4 separate regions of the Homo sapiens genome follow, and all the other regions are reported to be linked to region 4. The links are microRNA targets in miRTarBase. Many come from high-throughput screens and were not tested one by one. Region 4 holds a microRNA gene; each other region holds the end of a gene's coding sequence.
The links. Region 4 holds the annotated microRNA hsa-miR-6770-3p (CUGGCGGCUGUGUCUUCACAG, at 823-843, opposite strand). A microRNA usually pairs through its seed, bases 2 to 8, with sites in the 3' UTR of a target mRNA and lowers its output. Matches are read on the target gene's strand: a 7mer-m8 pairs with bases 2 to 8, a 7mer-A1 pairs with bases 2 to 7 and ends in A, and an 8mer does both.

Region 1: miRTarBase lists ZNF33A as a target of hsa-miR-6770-3p. The part of its 3' UTR that is shown has no 7-base or 8-base seed match.
Region 2: the mRNA of TRMT5 is a reported target of hsa-miR-6770-3p. Seed matches in the 3' UTR shown: 7mer-m8 at 3,009-3,015.
Region 3: miRTarBase lists PIAS4 as a target of hsa-miR-6770-3p. Seed matches in the 3' UTR shown: 7mer-m8 at 1,501-1,507.

What each region holds. Positions count from the first base shown.
Region 1 is chr10:38,056,320-38,059,430 of GRCh38, reverse strand. ZNF33A (zinc finger protein 33A) reads right to left here. Exons shown (of 5, transcript NM_006954.2): 5 at 1-3,111. The coding sequence ends at 2,871. Among named protein-coding and RNA genes, the nearest start is that of ZNF37A, 36 kb to the left of the region's middle.
Region 2 is chr14:60,972,370-60,975,480 of GRCh38, reverse strand. TRMT5 (tRNA methyltransferase 5) reads left to right here. Exons shown (of 5, transcript NM_020810.3): 4 at 1-6; 5 at 287-3,111. The coding sequence ends at 372. It also overlaps the pseudogene RNU6-398P. Among named protein-coding and RNA genes, the nearest start is that of TRMT5, 7.2 kb to the left of the region's middle.
Region 3 is chr19:4,037,231-4,040,341 of GRCh38, forward strand. It overlaps PIAS4 (protein inhibitor of activated STAT 4), which reads left to right. Exons shown (of 11, transcript NM_015897.4): 10 at 144-274; 11 at 386-2,156. The coding sequence ends at 645. Among named protein-coding and RNA genes, the nearest start is that of ZBTB7A, 28 kb to the right of the region's middle.
Region 4 is chr16:14,928,591-14,931,701 of GRCh38, reverse strand. MIR6770-1 (microRNA 6770-1) reads right to left here and starts at 882; the gene lies at 823-882. It also overlaps the pseudogene PKD1P3-NPIPA1 and the pseudogene PKD1P3. RefSeq lists an enhancer at 981-1,794.

The sequences.
Region 1 (3,111 bases), not on the chromosome of region 4:
TACTTGTGAACAAAGTTGTATTTCATCCTTTCAAATCTATGTGCATTTTATTTCTTTTTTTTTTAACACTGCATTATATAGCACTTCCAGTACAATGCTGAAAAGCAGTGGTGTGGTGTTCCTTGCCATGTTCCTGATCTTAGTAGGAAAGTGTCTAGTTGGAAACATCAAGGATAATGTTAGCTGTAGGGTTTTTTGTAGTATGTTCTTTACCAACTTGAGTAAGTTCTCCTGTATTCCTTCTGTGTTGAGAGGTTTTAACATGAATGGATATTGGATTTTGTCAAATGCTTTTTCTGTACCTATTGATATGATCGTATTTCATCTTTGAGCTGCTAATGCATGCAATGGATTACACTGAATATCAAATGTTGAACAAGCCTTGCATTCCTGATTTGCTAATATTTTGAGGATTTCTGCATCTGTGTTCAATGGAAATATTGATCTGTAGTTTTCCTTTCTTGTAATATCTTTGCCTGGTTTTGCTATTAGGGTAATACTGGCCTCACAAAATGAGTTGGGAAGTGTTATCTCTGCTTTTATTTTCTGAAAGAGATGGTAGAGACTTGGTATCATTTCTACCTTAAGTATCTCAAAAACACATCAGTGAACCCAGCTGGTCCTGGCACTTTGTTTTGGAAAGTTTCATTATTATTTTTTGAGATGCAGTCTCATTCTGTCACCCAGGCTGCAGTACAGTGGCACAATCTCAGCTCACTGCAACATCCACCTCCCAGGTTCAAGTGATTCTTCTGCCTCAGCCTCCTGAGTAGCTTCGACTACACACGCATGCCACCATGCCCAGCTAATTTTTTGTATTTTTAGTAGATAGGGGGTTTCACCATGTTGACCAGGCTGGTCTCGAACTCCTGACCTTGTGATCCACCCGCCTCAGCCTCCCAAAGTGAAGTGCTGGGATTACAGGCATGAACCACTGTACCTGGCCTTGGAAGGTTATTAATTACTGCTTTGGTTTATTTAATAGATACATATGCCTATTGAGGTCTATCTTGTGTGAGCTTTGAGAGAATGCGTCTTGCAAGGAATTGGTCCATTTTAGCTAAGTTATCAAATTTATGGACAGAGTTGTCCATGTTTCTTTCTAATCCTTTTGGTGACCATAGGATTAGCTGTGATGGCCTCTTTCATTTTTGGTATTAGCAATATTTGTCTTCTGTTTGTTCTTAAGCTAGCTAGAGGTTTATCAATTTTACTGACCTTTTCAAGGAACCAGTTTTGGGTTTTATCGATTTTCTCTTTTCAATTTCAATGATTTTTACTCTAATGTTTTTTCAGGTTACTTTGGATTTAATTTGCTCTTCTTTTTCTAGTTTCCTAAAGTGGAAGCTTAGATTACTTGTGTAATCTAGGATCACTAGACTGTATAATCTTAGATTATTTGTATGATCTGATCATGTAATATAGTGTACAATCTTCACACTATCAATAAAAGCCCCACACCAGCTTGATTCTGGTTCTGCTCCAGCCTCAACCCTCCTCTTCATATTCTCAAAAGTCTGAGGGCCCAGATCCCTGTCTGGGGACAATGAGCCTTGAAATGACAGTCCAACAGCCCTGGGCAGCCCTGGGCTGTATGTGTGGGCCTTTCCAGGGCCCTGTCTTGGAGAGCAGCTGCTTAAAGAAAATTTGGACTACCACTTATGCTGAAGGCTGGAATGTTCACATATGTACCCTAGGCACTTCATGGCATGGCATGAGCCACAGGTAGGAAGAGAAAGGGAGTAACATGGAGGCGAGCCTAGATCTTCACATGTACAGGATAGATTTTTTTTAGATAATTTGTTATTTTGATTTATACCTTTTAAATGGATAAACATTAGCTCTGTGGGTCTCCTTTTAAATTGTTTCAGGACATCACAAACATCTGGGATGGGCCTGATAATGTAACCACTACTAAACTAGGATACCTACTTCCTATTCACAATTACGTTAAATTCCATTATGCATATGAAACACACGATTTATATCACATACCACTTATACATATATAAGTCTTTTGAACTTCAGGGATAATTCGCAGATGTGCTTAATGCTATTGCCCTGATTATTCAATTTATCTGTGCTTTAAAAAAACTTCATAGTCAAGTGGATGCAAGGGATAGGGTTGCAGAAAGCGTGTGGTTATTAATACAAAAAGGGAACTACTTGAGGCTAAATCCTTTGTAATCCTGATACAGTACAGATCTCAGATTCCTTTTCAGTTCTGTAAACTAATCGTGTTGATGGTTACTCAAATGTAAAAGTCGTAAAAGTTTGATATAACCACACACACACACATACACGTACACACACACACAGAGTGCATGCAAACCATAGTAAAATCTGACTAAGTCTCTATCTACCAGCAAGGTAACATCGATTTCTTGGACTTGACCATATACTATGATTATACATTATCCTTAGAGGAAGTTTGGTGAAGTGTACATGGGAATTCTCTCTACTCATTAAACTTCTTGTGAGGTTATTTTAATTATTACCTTTGTTTAAGTTCTTAAAGCTTTACATTCCACAATATACATCTATAAATTATTGTTAGGTGCCCTAAAAACTATTATGGCATCAAACTCAAAACATAACTTGTCGTATTTTATTTCTAAGCAAAATTTTCACTTTAGATTTCTTAAATTGACAATTTTCTCCTCAGTGTAAATTCTAACATAACCTTATTTGCATTTTTGCCAAAAACTTTCACAAATTCAAAAAAAATCTGTAAGGTGTTATGCCCGTATTAACCATCTGATATTACATAGAATATCACTTCCTAACAAAAGCTGTCCTATAATTGTTGTAGTCTATGGGTTTATCCCCTACTATTACTTTGGAGTAACATAAGGTGAGTTTGTGGATAGTTACTGAACATTCAGGATGTCATCAGGGCTTTCTCCACAGTGTGAATACTCTGAGGCATTATGGAGGCTGACTTGTGGCTGGAAATTTCTAATATCCATTTCATTCATAAGGTTTTCTCCTATATGTCTTCTCTGATGTACAATGAGATTTGACTTTTGAGAGAAAGTTTTCCTGCATGTGTTACATTCATAGGGCTTTTCCCCTGTATGTGATCTCTGATGTTGAGCAAGTTCCGATTTA
Region 2 (3,111 bases), not on the chromosome of region 4:
ATCCAGGTGAGCAGTTTCTGGGAAATTAAATGTAAACCTTGCCATTCAATTGTAACTAATTCCTCCCAGTTTTACAAATTTTAATGCAGTATTAGTTCAGTCTAATAGAAAGCTACTGTGTTAGTTCAGTCTAATAGAAGGCTATTTCATTAAAATAGTAAATCTGCAAGAATGTTATTTCATGTTTAAGTTGACTAGATTAAAAATGCCTATATTGTTTGTTTTTTTAAGAGTATTTTCAACTGTTAATATCTTACCTAAAATAGGTTTTCTGGATTTATTACAGAGAATCATGAAGATCCACCTCTTAAAAGGCAGAGGACGGCTGAAGCCTTTTCAGACGAAAAAACACAAATTGTTTCAAACACTTAATTGGAAATGTTTTCTCCATCTCCCTACCAGACTTACATGTAGTGAAATAGAATTTGTATTATTTAATAAAATTTTAGGGTTTGGTTTTTACTATTGAACCCTTGTACTTTGCCTTATTTTACAAATTGAGGATTACCAATTAAACTTTAACTGAACTAAGGCTACCAAATACATTCCCTGTTATCTAAATTATAACATACAATTATTTTATAACAAAATATATCTAATTTTTATTGGATAAATATGAATAAATATTTTCTCTCAGGGAAAATAATTTTTGAAAGTAGGGTGATTGAGTACTAACTAGGAAGGTATTAACACCACTTTGTAGTTGTCCTTTACGTAACTACTCCTTTACTGCCAATTAACTATCACCATAAAAGTAATAAAAAATGAAATTATTTAGAACGGGGCAGGCAAACTACATCCTGCAGGCCAAATCTGTCCCACCACCTGTTTTCATATGGCCTGTGGCCTAATAATGTTCTTACGTTTTCCATTGGTTGAAAAATAATCAAAAGAACATTTTGTGACGTGAAAATTTTATGACATCTATTATGTATCAGTTTTAAAAATTAGAATTGTATGAAATTAAGAGTTTCAGAGTTCATAAAGTTTGATTGGAACATACCATGCTCATTTGTTTACATATCATCTGCAGCTGTTTTTTGTTTTTAATATGGAACGCTTCACGAATTTGCATGTCATCCTTGCGCAGGGACCATTCTGATCTTCTCTGTACCATTCCAGTTTTTTAGTATATGTGCTGCTGAAGTGAGGACTGCAGCTGCTTTCTTGAACAATAGCAGAGTTGAGTGGTTGCAACACACACTGAATGTGACTGTCATCACTTCACACTGCTGTTTGACACATCACAAATCACTGATGTGGTTGTAACGACAGCATTTTGAGTGCCATGTATATCACATGAACCCACATTTTATTTTTTATTACCAGAGCATATCTATTATAGCAAAACAAGAAAAGTGGACTTTGTTGTTATTTTTAAAGTACAGTAGGGTGTGAATTATTTTGATGTTGAATTAGACGACAAAGCATCTATATAGCTAAGCTAAAAGAATAACCATTGACATTACCAGACAAACCACTCATCACAGTATTCCCAACTCACAGGCAAGCAACTGTTAGAAAAATTAGAAAATTTAAAATGGAAATAACAAAGCAGAATTTCTTCACAAAATGAAAATGAGGCTGCAACAACAGTAAGTCTCTAAGTCAATCATTTGTTAGCCAAGCAAAGCCATTTATTGATGGTGTGAATTAATTATGTTTGGATGCAGCAGCTGAATATATCCAGAGAAAATAAACTTAAGATTACTGGCCTTTGGCAAGAACAGTTGCTTAAAGAGTTAAGGACATTGAAAGCGACATAAATAGTCACTTTAAAAAGGAAATGATTCTGGATGGTTCTTTGACTCTATTTTTATTTTTACTTAGAGACAGGGTCTTGCTCTGTTGCCCAGGCTGGAGTGTAGAGACACAGTTACACCTCAATGTAACCTTGAACTCCTAGGCTTGAGATCTTCCCATCTCGGCTTCCCAATGTGTGAAGGTTACAGGTGTGAGCCCTTATATGTGGCCCTCGTGAATGGTTTAGCACTATCCCCTTGGTGGTGTCCTTAAGATAATGAGTTATGAGATCTTGTTGTTTCAAAGTATGTGGCACTCGCCCCCCACACTCTCTTGCTCCTGCCTTCGCCATGTGAAGTGCCTTCTCCTATTTTGCCTTCTACCATGAGTAAAAGCTTCCTGAGGCTTCCCCAGAAGCAGATGCCAGTGCTATGCTTCCTATAGCCTGGAGAACTGTGAGCCAATTATACCTCTTTTCTTATAAATTACCCAGTATCAAGTATTTCTTTATAGCAATGCAAGAATGGCCTAAAACACAAGGCAAAACAACTTTGATATGGTACAGTCATTTTGACAATCGATATTTGAATCACAATATTTGATGACAATATCCTTACACATTTGTCATACTATCAAAGAGAAAGAAACAAGATTTCCATTCCCACAAATTTTAGTGAGTATATTTTCTGAGTTCAGCATTTTTAGGGACCTAGGTGCAAGTGCAAAGGAAATTTCCCTGTTTCAAAATCTATTTAACTGCAATTGAGGTGATTCAACCTAATTTTCAGTAAGAAGTGATTAAAATAATGACATGCTAAAAGGCAAATTTCAAGGGAAGAAATGTAAAAGAATTTTACAAATGCTTTCCAAGTGATGAATATGCTCAGTTAATTTCATATGCTCCTGGATTGATAGCAGTATTTGGCAATACCTATCTGTATGAGAAGACATTTTTAAAGATGAAATGTGTAAAATCTTATTACCATTAGTATTAATGGTTAATGATGGTTAATGATAACCATTAATAGGCAATCATTTACAACTGATTTTGATCACAGGGAACACTTACTTAGAACCCTGATTAGAGGCAATGTTATTCTCACCAAAAAAGGCATTACAAAAAATTGGGCTATATTTTGAATTTTGTCAATTAAAAAAGCGTGGGAGCAGTGTGAAGGAGAAGAGGCAAGAACGACCCCTGGACCGACCAAAGCCCGCGCGCTGCTGCGTCCCACACCCGGTGCCCACATCCCGCCGCCGCCGCCGCCGCCATGCCCAAGAGAAAGACTGAAGGGGATGCTAAAGGAGATAAAGCCAAGGTGAAGGATGAATCACAGAGAAGATCTGCGAGGTTGTCTGCTAAACCTG
Region 3 (3,111 bases), not on the chromosome of region 4:
GGACCCCTGCGGTCGGGGTGGTGAGGCTGCTCTTGCAGAGAGAAGTGGGGAGTGCCTGGCTGCATCCGGGAGGGATGGAGGGCTGGGGAGTTGGGGGGGTGGGGCACCTCCAGCCCCGGCGTCAGCTGTCCGCCTCGCCCCAGGCTCCTCTCGAAGATCCTGAGCGAGTGTGAGGACGCCGACGAGATCGAGTACCTGGTGGACGGCTCGTGGTGCCCGATCCGCGCCGAAAAGGAGCGCAGCTGCAGCCCGCAGGGCGCCATCCTCGTGCTGGGTGAGTGCCTCACCCCACCAGCCGCGCAGTCCGCAGCCAGGGCCGCCTCAGTTTCCCCATTTATCAGTGGTTGCATCCTAAGTACCTGCACCCTGTCCCTGTTGCCCGTAGGCCCCTCGGACGCCAATGGGCTCCTGCCCGCCCCCAGCGTCAACGGGAGCGGTGCCCTGGGCAGCACGGGTGGCGGCGGCCCGGTGGGCAGCATGGAGAATGGGAAGCCGGGCGCCGATGTGGTGGACCTCACGCTGGACAGCTCATCGTCCTCGGAGGATGAGGAGGAGGAGGAAGAGGAGGAGGAAGACGAGGACGAAGAGGGGCCCCGGCCCAAGCGCCGCTGCCCCTTCCAGAAGGGCCTGGTGCCGGCCTGCTGACCCCGGCCGCACACTCGACTTTCCTGGTGCTCACCACGCAGAGGGGCACGGGCCAGCCTCGGGCGCAGAGGGAGGAGTGACCTTTCTTTTTCTTTTTATTGTCGTTCGTTTTGTTTTTCCACCCTTTTGCCTGGCTCCTGGCACCTGTACCTCTGGACTCTCCTATCGGGGGATTAAAAAAAAAAGTAAAATGACAAAAAAAGATACAAAAAAGAAAAATGAAACAAAAAAGTCAAACTCTTAAAAACAAGGCCGGCCACCCACACAGCCGCCTCCCCGGCTGGAGTCCGAGCCGGGAAGGGGTAGTGGGCGGGAGGGACCAGGACGCCGCCCCGCGCCCTCCCCTCCGGATGCCCCGCCGCCCGCCGCCCTCTGCCCACGACCATTCCAGCCAGTGCGCGGGGACCCGGGCGGCGGGCGGTGGGGCGCAGCCCCTCTCTGGCGACCACTTTGACGTTTGTCTCTTCCTTTGCTTTTTCTCTGCAAATGCATCCTCGCCCAGAGACCCTCACGCGCCGAGCAGCGAGCGTTTTAGCCGAGAAGCCATGGAGTGGGTTGGGGCGGGGAGGGGCAGTAGGGTGGGGGGATGGGTGGGCAGGATGGGGGTACAGTGGGCGGCTGGGGAGGGTTTAGCCACAGATGTGTTGTATTTTTTGAAAGTGCAATAATTTGGTATTTTGAAGACCCGGCGTGTGGTCAGGAACCCCCGGGGAAGGCGGGGGCCCAGGGTGCGGCACCGTGTGGCGTGGGGGGGTCTCAGTTTTCTAGCCAGCTACCTCGGTAATTCCAATTCAGGTTAACTTCCCTACGGAACAGCACAGATGTCCACAGATGTCCACAGCTGCCGCCGCCGCCGCCGCCACCATACCCCGGTCCTTGGGGCATGGGTTGCGGTCGCTTCCCAAGGGGCAGCAGGGACCCCGGCCACCCCGGCTCTCGGTTTGGGTTGATTCCTCTCCTTTTTGCTCTTGGTTTTCCGACGGGTACGAGGCTGGCCCGGCACCCTGTCCCCCGGGAGCCTCACTCTTCCAGCAGGACCAGACCAGGGGCCTCCTTCCTGTCCCCAGGCGTTCCCGGCCCCTCGCAGGCCCCACCCATGCCCTTGGCCTCAGGGTCCAACAACTGGGGGAGCTACCAGGGCTCTGCCTTCAGGAGCCCACAGCTGGGCACCCCCCTTGCCCCGCAGGAGACCGGGGCGCAGGCGGGGCACCGGCCTCACCTGGTTCTCCAACACCGCTGCCTGCGGTCTGTTTTGCTTTTGTCCTCCCCAGCCCAGAATTTTCCTTTGTATAAACAGAACTCCTAGTCAGGAAGCAATATCATTTCAGGTCTAAAGAAAGGGACGTGCATCTGGCCGAGGGCAGTTCAGTCTCACTGCAGAGCCCGCAGCCCGCTGCGCAGCTCGGCCCCTCCCGCCCGCACGGGCAGCTGAAGGCCGCTGTTTTCTAATATTTGTATTCTAATTTAATTGTTTTTAAAAAATGCAAATAAAAAAGGTCGAGGTGAAGCCATCCAGGCGTCCGCTTTTCTGTGCCCTGTGTCTCTTAAGTGTGTACCCTGTAGTCGGGGGGCGGAGTTGGGGGAAGGACAGAAACTCAGCCTCACCCACATCTCTCTTTCTTGGTTATTGCCTCAGCTTCAGAATTCAAAAGGTGCTGCTCGTGGTCAAATGAGGCAGATTTTTATTTATTTACTTATTTTTAATAGAGACAGGGAGTCTTGCTGTGTTGCCCAAGCTGGTCTTGAACTCTGGGCCTCAAGTGATCCTCCTGCCTCAGCCTCCCAAAGTGCTAGGATTACAGGCATGAGCCACCATGCCCGACCTGAATGAGGCCAGTTTTACTGTGTACTGTACTGCCTGGGCCTGGTGTCCACCACGCTGGGAGAATGGGAGAAGGGACTTGGGCTGTACATGGAATTCAGGTCCCAGGATCGTCCATGTCTCTGGGTGGCCAAGACGATACACAAATGTTTTGCTTTTGTAAGGTGAAAAAAAAGGGCCGGGTGCAGTGGCTCACGCTTGTAATCCCAGCACTTTGGGAGGCCGAGGCGGGTGGATCACCTGAGGTCAGGAGATCGAGACCATCCTGGCTAACACAGTGAAACCCCATCTCTACTAAAAATACAAAAAGCTGGGCGTGGTGGCGGGCGCCTGTAGTCCCAGCTACTCGGGAGGCTGAGGCAGGAGAATTGCTTGAACCCAGGAGGCGGAGGTTGCAGTGAGCTGAGATCACGCCACTGCACTCCAGCCTGGGCGACAGAGCGAGACTCCGTCTCAAAAAAATATATATACAGACAACCAATGAGCACATGAAGAGATGTTAGGGATGTGAGTCAAATGCACGGTGAGATACCTGTCACCCCCACCAGGACAGCTAGCATCAAAAACAGCAGCGAGGGTCAGGGAAGCTGCAGTCCACATGGCTGGGGAAGATAACGTGGTGCAGCCCCTTGGAAACAGTTGAG
Region 4 (3,111 bases):
GGTCAGGAGTTCGCCTGGCTGACATGGTGAAAAATTAACTGGGTGTGGTGGTGTGCACCTGTACTCCCAGCTACTCAGGAGAATCGCTTAAGGGGAATCGCTTAAACCCAGGAGCTGGAAGTTGCTGTGAGCCAAGATCACGCCATTGCACTCCAGCCTGGGCAACAGAGCGAGACTCCGTCTCCAAAAAAAGAAAAACGAAAACAAAAAGGGAATGCCAGAAGGGCAATTCCAATAAAGGAAAATGGAGGTATTGAAGAAACAGCCACGGGGAGGGTGCTGGCACCTCCGCCTGAGAGACGAGCTATGCAGTCAGGATCGCGGGTGGATGCATGGTCTCCCACAGTGGTAGCGATGCTCATGTCACTTGTGGGGCCACGCTACTGTGCAGAACGTGGGCTGCCCACCCTGACTGACTGGCACCTACTTCCAGCTAGGAGCTGTCCTAGTCCTCAGGGACAGTGAGTGCTCACGAGGTCATTCCCAGGATGAACACACGAGCCCTTCACACAGTACTGCAAAAACTGCCTTGTTCTGACGCCTGCGACGAGACTCATTCCCAGAGGGTGCAACCAGCACAGCCAGTGAGAGCAGGGGAGGCCCTGCCACCCCGCCGCGCCCCTCACCTGAGCCCCGGCCCCAGCCTGTCTTGACGAGGATCTCGTACTTGAAGCGGCCCCGCTGCCCACAGAAGGGGATGGCGCGGCCCCGGCTGGCATCCAACTGGTCCAGCTTGTGCAGGATGGCGGCCATGACCATGTAGGTCACCAGGCACACAGCACATGTCAGCATGACGATGTAGTTTACATCCGCTGTTGGCTCCTGTGAAGACACAGCCGCCAGGCCCAGGAGGTCACGTGCAAGCTGTGCCTTCTCAGGATAGAGCCGAGCCCACCCAGGCCCTCCTCGACTCTGCAGAGGCTCCCAGGAGCACAGGGTCACTCACAGGAAACACAAAGCGGATATGGCTTGGGGGCACGAAGAGGCTGGTGCCGAAGGCGGTGAGGTGGCGGGTGAGGCAGACGGCCTGGCGGGGCGAGGTCTCCTCCAGGGGCAGCAGCCCCTCTGTCCGCCACACCACGTCCTCCTCGCTGAAGTACTGGCACAGGGACGTGTACAAGCCCACGGACACCTCCAGCGCCGACCAGCGGAAGTGACTGGAGAGGTTCAGACGGTAACTCCCCACTGGGTCTCTGGTCCTGGGAAGGGAAGGGGCAGTGGACGTGAGCCCAGGCTCCGCCAGGTTGGATGTCGAAGTCCCAGAGCCCATACCCGGTCCAGTCCCCTCGCTGCCTGCCGTCCCCACGGGGCCCGTAACCCGGGCAATGCTGACCCATGATGCCCTGCCCTGCCCTGCCAGGCCGGCCCGCAGAGCTCACCCCGGGGAAATGAAGAAGGTGTAGGGCCGGTGGTCGGCACCCTGGAGGGACTCTGGGCGGATCCTCCTGCTAGCCGAGCAGTTGCGCTCATTGGGCCGGGGCTCCGAGTGCAGGTAGACTGCCAGGTAGGGCTCGGGTTCCTCAGACAGGTAGCGGCCTGGGGCAGAACGCGCAGGTCACACGCCTGCCGGGAAGCTCAACCACCCGGGGGACACCCACGATGGCCCTCCTGAGCCCACCCTCTGCCATGGGCCTGAAAGGCCATAGGAGCCTCTGCACCAGAGCTGGCACCTGCTTCTCCGTGGCCCCCAGCTCCTCTCCGGCCAGGCCCCCAGCAGCCCATGAAACAGAAAGCAAATTTCACCAGAGACACCCATGGAAGCCCTACGAGAAACGCCTTCCCCCCAAGAACAAGGCCAGGGGGCCGCGTGTGCCCCAACCGCTGCATGCACCGTCCAGCAGCGTATAGTTGAGCTGCAGATGCAGCACGGCCGCAGGGTTGCTGCTGTCCAGGGTGACCACAGCACCGACGGAGGCCTGGGGCTGGACCACAACGGAGTTGGCGGAGCTGCGGTGGCCCCGGGCAGCCCAGTCCGAGTTGTTGGGCACCTTCACGGTGAGGCGCGCTCTGAGGCCAGCCGCTCGATGGGGATCTGGGCGCCGGCCTGTGTCTGGAACGCCATCGAGGCCACCTTGGTGGAGACGGTGTAGTTGCTGATATAGCCAAAGGGAAAGGGATTGGAGTCCACCAGAAAGATGAGCTGCACCACGTCACTGAGGTTGGCCGGGGCCCTGCTGAAAGCCTAGGGGATGGAGAAGTGGCAGCCAGGCCCTGGGGCGCCGCCATAGCACAGCAGGCTCCGCGGGTCCGAGCGCTTGCCCTGGGCCACGATCTCCTCACCCGCCAGCGTCAGGGGCTCCTCGTTGAGCACGCGGGAGCGCGTGAGGATGGGCGTGAGGGCAGAGGTCAGGTTGTAGGCCTGGGACGCCACCATCCGCGATGGTGACTCGGCTCCCAGCTCTGAGCGCTGTGGTGCCCGCACGTCTGAGCTGGCCAGGTGGATGAGGTCTCCTGCAGACAGGCGTGAGGTCAGTGCAGAGACAGGGAGGCAGAGGGAGGGTGGGGGCAGGCAAAAAGGGGGAGCCGGAGGGTGGGGACTGGGAGAAAGGGGGAACCTGAGGGGGCAGAGAGCGAGGTGCAGGCAGAAGGAAGGGGGAAGCTGGAGAGAGAGTGGTGGAGGGGGAGGGGGAAGGGGATGGGGATGAGGACGAAGATGAGGGGGATGATGGGGAGAGGGAGGAAAAAGGAAGGAAAAGGGTAGAGAAAAGAGAAAGGGGAGAAGAAGAGGAGCAGGGGGAAGGGAGGGGAAGGGGATAAGGCGGATAAGGGAGGGGAAGGGGGATAAGGGAGGGGAAGGAGGATAAGGGGGATAAGAAAGATGAGGGGAATGGACAAAAGGACGGGGAGGATCGGGGGGGAAATGGAGAAAAGGGGAGAGAGATGGAGAAAAGGGATGGTAATAGGGAAGGGGGAGGGGGAGGAGAATGGGAATTGGGGGAGGGGGATAAGGATGGGAATTGGGGGAGGGGGATAAGGATGGGAATTGGGGGAGCGGGATGAGGATGGGAATTGGGGGAGGGGGATGAGGATGGGAATTGGGGGGAGGGGAGGGGGACGAAGATGGGATGGGGCAAAGGCGAGGCGGTTGTGGGGAGGAGGGAGGCAGAGGAA